2 separate regions of the Homo sapiens genome follow, and region 2 is linked to region 1. Evidence: fine-mapped expression QTL. A gene starts in region 1. The other region holds a variant in brackets. All regions are shown on one strand. Distances are from middle to middle.

Region 1 (2,919 bases):
TGCCTTTAAGGAAATAATTTTATTAGAAAAGGGTTAGAGGGTGGGTTCCGGGATTAGCAGGAGATCGGTGGAAGGAAAGAGGAGGTCTGGCAAGTCCTCAGACATGCGCAGTTATCTCTTCATGCTTCCTCATGGGTGCTGTGTGCAAATCAAATTCCGGGGCAGTTAATACGAAACATGCGTGGAAATTCAGGCTGTGATATCAGCAAGCTCTTTCTGCAGAAACTCCAGTTGGCCATATTGGGTCCAACTGATTTCTGCCAGTTTTGTTATCACTTGTCACAGTTTCAGTATCTACCCCAGGAGGTCACGATTGCCCATTGTGTCTGTCCCAGGAGAGGTTGCGAGAGGTTCCCACCCACCCCCTTCCACTCACAGACCCTGAAGCAGAGCTTGTCTGGTTTCAGGCAAAACAGAGTCAGCATCCTGAAGCGGGGAGGGTCAAGTCTCCTGGGATGCGTTCAGAAGAAATTTCACAAGCATTTGGCTGAACTTGTGTACTGACATCTAAATGTTGAGTAACGTAGAGTAAAGAATTAAAAGGCAATCAAATAACCCTTTGGCTCATCTTTAAGTTTCTTCATGTTTTCTGAAAGCTTGTTCTTTTTCTTAAGTTTATTTCAAAAATGCTAAAAATTAGCCGGGCGCGGTGGCTCACGCCTGTAATCCCAGCACTTTGGGAGGCCGAGTCGGGCCGATCACGAGGTCCGGAGATGGAGACCATCCTGGCTAACACGGTGAAACCCCATCTCTATTAAAAATACAAAAAATTAGCCGGGCGTGGTGGTGGGCGCCTGTAGTCCCAGCTACTCCGGAGGCTGAGACAGGAGAATGGCGTGAACCCGGGAGGCGGAGCTTGCAGTGAGCGGAGATCGCAGAGATTGCAGAGATTGCACCACTGCACTCCATCCTGGGGGACAGAGCGAGACTCCATCTCAAAAATAAATAAATAAATAAATAAATAAATAAATAAATAAATAAATAAATAAATATAAAAAGCTAAAAATTAGGCCTTGCCTAGAGAAGAGAGTCACCCTGGATTCTAGCCTCACCTAATATGAGGCTTTCCCTATTTTCTCAGCTGAGGGGTAAGGACCCTTAGGACCTTGGAACTCCTGGATTCCACCTGCTGGTTGGAGCTTACAGGCAGGGGCCCCTGTGGGGCTGTGACGCCCTGTGTGATGTCATCAGGCTTTGTGAGGGGGACTGTACTGCCCTTTGAGTACTACTGTGTGGCCCCGCAACCCAGCACAACCAGGTATCTGCTTGGAACCCAGCCACCATAAAGCCTGCTAGCTAAAAAAAATTTTACATCTCTCAGTTCATTCGGCACAGACCCCTGCCTCATTCAGCTGTGACTCTGCTTGGAAAATTCATCAGTTACAAAGCAGCCAATGCAATTATCTCAAGGGTAGGTGAAGTGAGCCCCATGTGCTAGAAGTGGGAACAAAGATGGGGGGAAACGTCTTTCACTTTGAATCAGCGGAAGCAGTACATCAAATCACTGCGTCTTGAAGGAGGTGCTAGCTCTGGGGATTAGGTTTAAGAAGATTTATTTTATTTTTTAAAGAAGGAGTAGCCTCCTAGCTGGTTACACCACCCTAAACGTGGACTGGGCATTGTAATGGCTTTAGTTCATGAAAAATAGGGAAACTTTTCATTACATGTGTCTTTATGCTGGTAATGTTTATACAGTGACTGTATTACTTATTTGAAAAAAATAGGGAAATAAAGGCCCTTAGCAGTGTCATAAAGTCCTAGATCTTATATGGAGATCAGTATTAAGATGGTCCTAGGAAAGCTAGGGGTTAAAAATGCTGATTATAAACTGGGCACGGCAGCTGGCATCTGTAATTCCAGCTCCTGGGAGGCTAAGGTGGCAGGACCATGTGAGTCCAGGAGTTCAAGATCAGCTTGGATGAAAGAGTGAGACTCTGTCTCGAGAAAAAAAAAAAAAAAAAGGAAAAAAAGTGTTGATTATTGACAGAAGAATTAGTTGTGATATTATCTAAAGCATGGTCATGTTTTCCTGATTCAATAGACTCGTATTTTTTTAAAAACTTGGCCAGGCATGGTAGCTCATGCCTGTAATCCCAGCACTTTTGGGGGCCAAGGCAGAAGGATCACTTGAGCTCAGGAGTTTGAGACCAGCCTGGGCAACATAGCAAGACCTCATCTCTATTTAAAAAAAAAAAAAAAAAACAGGCGTGGTGGCACTCACCAGCCTGTAGTACCAGCTACTTGGGAGGCTGAAAGAGGAGGATCATTTGAGCCTGGGAAGTCAAGGCTGCAGTGAGCTGTAATTGGGCCACTGCACCCCAACCTGGGCAGCAGAGCGAGACCCTGTCTCAAAAAAAAAAAAGAAAAGAAAAAAAAAAAGAAAGAAACTCAATGACTGTAAATGCAGATTTAGGCTAGGGTTTTGGCGTGTTGGTGGGGGCATGTTGGTGACTATTAGCTGCATTCTTTTCTCTACAGGATTCTTTTGATCATCTGCTAAGTCTCTTTAATGCACTTAAAATTTTATTTGCTGTACATATGAATCCTCGTTGAAATATATTTTACAAATTCTGTGCTTTTCTAGCATTGAATTCTGCATCTTTTAGTGAAGAAAATAACTGAACATGGTTTTCTTCTGAAGACACAAAGTCCAAAGGCCAATCACACACCTCTTACATCGATCTCTTGATAGGAGGGGTTTTCTGTGTTTTGTGGGAGTATAGGGGGTGGGTTGGGAGGTGAGGTGCTTGTCACAGAGAAAACATAATATAAGAACTCATATTAGTAAAATAAGAAAATTAAGGAGGTTGGGGATATGTTCATAAGTGTTCACGTCTAAAGAGAATTCCCCCCAAGTTTTCCTGATGTATTAGAATCTTTCTAGAGAATAATTTATTTTTCAGTAATAATCCTATTGAG
Region 2 (2,919 bases), 43 kb after region 1:
TAGCCATTTGGGAAAATTTTAGGTCTTTATTTCATACCATAACCCAAATAAATTATAACTGGATTAATGTTAATTTTATTTTAAAAAATCAAACCATAGCCAGGTGTGGTGGCTCATGCTTGTAATCCTAGCGCTTTAGGAGGCCAAGGCAAGAGGATTGCTTGAGGCCAGGAGTTCTAAGACCAGCCTGACAACACAGTGAGACACCATCTCTACAAAAATTTTTATTAAAAAAAGTAGGCGAGTGTGTTGGTGCACACCTGTAGTCCTAAGCTACTCAGGAGGCTGAGGCAAGAGGATCGCTTGAGTCCAGGAGTTGGAGGTTATAGTGAGCTATAATAGCACCACTCCACTCCAGCCTGGGCAACAGAGTGAGACTGTCTCTGTAAAAACATCATCATCATCAAACTTCTTAAGGGATAATTTAAAAATATAAAAACATAGATTAATACTTGCCTGTTTTATGAATAAAGAAATTTCAAAGCTTAAAACCAATGGAAAAGGTGCTAAAAAAAAGTCTATTTTTTTAACAAAAAAATGTAAAATTGCTGCAAATAAAAAATAATAAAATTAAATAACAGTAGGCTGGGGAAATGTAACAGGACTAAAAGTTAATATTTTTAGTATGTAAAATGTACATTTAAAATCCATTAAAAATACAACTCCAAGCTGGGCATGGTGGCTCACGCCCATAATCCCAGCACTTTGGAAGGCTGAGGCAGGTAGATCATTTGAAGTCAGAAGTTTGAGACCAGCCTGGCCAACACGGTGAAACCCCATCTCCACTAAAAATACAAAAATTAGCTGGACATGTTGGCAGGTGCCTGTAATCCCAGCTACTTGGGAGGCTGAAGCAGGACAATTGCTTGAAGCCAGGAGGTGAATGTTGCAGTGAGCTGAGATCATGCTACTGCACTCCAGCCTGGGTGACAGAGCGAGACTCTATCTAAAAAAAAAAAAACAAAAAACAAAACTACTCCGATAGGCAAAGTACACGACAATTTCATTTACAAATGGCTAATCATGTGGAAAATTCAACCTCACCAGCGATTAAAAAAAAATTAACCAGATTTTTTAAAATTGAGGCACGATTAACATAAAACTGATCATTTAAAAATGAACAATTAAGTAGCATTTCGCACCTTCACAATGTTGTACAGCCATGACCTCTAACTCCAAAACATTTTCATTACCTGAAAAGAAAGTCTTTTAGCCATTAAGCAGCTTCCTTCCCTCCAGTCTCTGGCAACCACCTATCTGTGTTCTGTCTCTTTCTAGA[T/A]ATTTCATATCAACGGAATCATACAATATGTAACTTTTTGTGTCGGGCTTCTTTCACTTAGTATATTTTTGAGGTTCATCCACATGGTGGATGTGTCAGTGCTTCCTTTTTTATGGTTGAATAATATTCCATTCTGTGATACACCACAGTTTGTTTCTCCATTCATCCATTGATGGGCATTTGGGCTGTTTCCCTCTTTTGGCTGTTGTCAACAGTACTGCTGTGACCATGCACATATATACATTTGTTTGAATTCTTTTGGGCATGTTCCTAGGAATAGAATTGCTGGGTCTTATGGTAATTCCAGGTTTAATTTTTTGAGGAGCTGCCAAGCTCTTTTCTTCAGTGGCTGCACCATTTACACTCCCACCAGCAATGTGTAAGAGTTCAAATTTCTCCATATCCCTGCCAAAACTTATTTTTCATTTTTTAAGTTCTCGTCATCCTAGTGGAAGTGAAGTGGTTCTTCACGTTGGTTTTGATTTGTGTTTTCCTAATGACATGATGTTTCGCATCTGTTTGTGTGCTTGCTAGCCATTCGTACATCTTCTTAGGAGAACCAGATGTTATTTTTCACCTATCAAATGAGCAGACATGATTTTAAAATGCTAATAATGTTACGTAATATTATAGAAGCTATTTTAGGTGAAAAATGTGAAGTATAAAGCTGTGTGTGTGCTGCCAATAGTATGAAAACATATGTGTTAAAAATGGGACTCTTGTTAGCTCAGTTTTGGTTGAGGCATGAAAATCATAGCTGTAATATTCCAAAGTGAGTTGTTAGACTGACCACGATAAAGATATTTCAAAATAGAGATCTGAGAACCAATGAGATGGCTCAGCCAGATTGAGTCATGTTGTTAGAGATTAAAGGAGATTTTTGGAGAAAGCTACTGCTCAAAGCCTGGTGAGAGAGACTTGATATGAATTCAGCACATTCTCAGACATCAATACAATAAAATTGGAAATATATTGGGATTGAGGAGAAGTGAACTAATGTTAGTTTTCTGCCGAAAATCAAAAGGATAAAAAGACTGTGACCAGCTGTAGAACAAAGGACACTTGCTTTTAGATTAGTAGCTGTATTTATGGCAGAGTTTGCTTTGGCAGTGTTGGAGAGAGAGCTATAGGGATCATCTTAGATGGTGTCCGGTAGGACTATCTAGAAGAATGGACAGGCCTCAGCAGAGAAGCTGGAGACAGAACACAGGATCTTAAGGAGCTGAGAAGACAGATTGAGTCACCAGAATAGAATGCACTTGCCCAGTTTGTGGGAACTGCTGACCAGAGACCACCAGGGATGAGAAGGGAGGTCCTCAAAGTTGCTATTGCCAGCCACACACCCTCAGAGAACTCAGCCCAGAGAGTGCCCTTCAGGCAAGAGAGAACTTTCCTGTTCTCTGTACTCCTCCCCTCCCACCCATCATTCCCAACAGCACTGGACAAGTGTTTCAATTTCTCCACCACCTCCCCAACACTTGCTATTGTCTGTCTTTTTCATTCTTGCCGTCCTAGTGGATGTAAAGGGATACCTCACTGTGATTTTTATTAACGTTTTTCTGATGACTAATGGTGTTGAACATCTTTTCACATGCTCATCAGCCATTTATACGTCTTTGCAAAGATGTCTATTCAAATCT

Alleles and levels. Alleles are on the strand shown, and positions count from the first base shown. SD is a standard deviation of normalised expression in the study named.
In carriers of allele T in region 2, the expression in prefrontal cortex of the gene that starts at base 1,248 in region 1 tends to be lower than with A alone (small effect, 0.31 SD a copy in CommonMind).

Evidence for each region. PIP is the estimated chance that this variant, and not a neighbour inherited with it, causes the effect.
Region 2: its variant is fine-mapped to the expression of GALNTL5 in prefrontal cortex (GTEx, PIP 0.90).

Annotation. Positions count from the first base shown.
Region 1 is chr7:151,955,199-151,958,117 of GRCh38, forward strand. It overlaps GALNTL5 (polypeptide N-acetylgalactosaminyltransferase like 5), which reads left to right and starts at 1,248. Exons shown (of 9, transcript NM_145292.4): 1 at 1,248-1,411. It overlaps LOC105375571 (a long non-coding RNA gene), which reads right to left and starts at 1,147. Exons shown (of 2, transcript XR_928179.2): 1 at 1,053-1,147; 2 at 1-507.
Region 2 is chr7:151,997,823-152,000,741 of GRCh38, forward strand. The region is part of intron 5 of GALNTL5 (polypeptide N-acetylgalactosaminyltransferase like 5); the gene reads left to right. Among named protein-coding and RNA genes, the nearest start is that of GALNT11, 26 kb to the right of the region's middle. The variant T/A (reference allele first, on the strand shown) is at 1,280.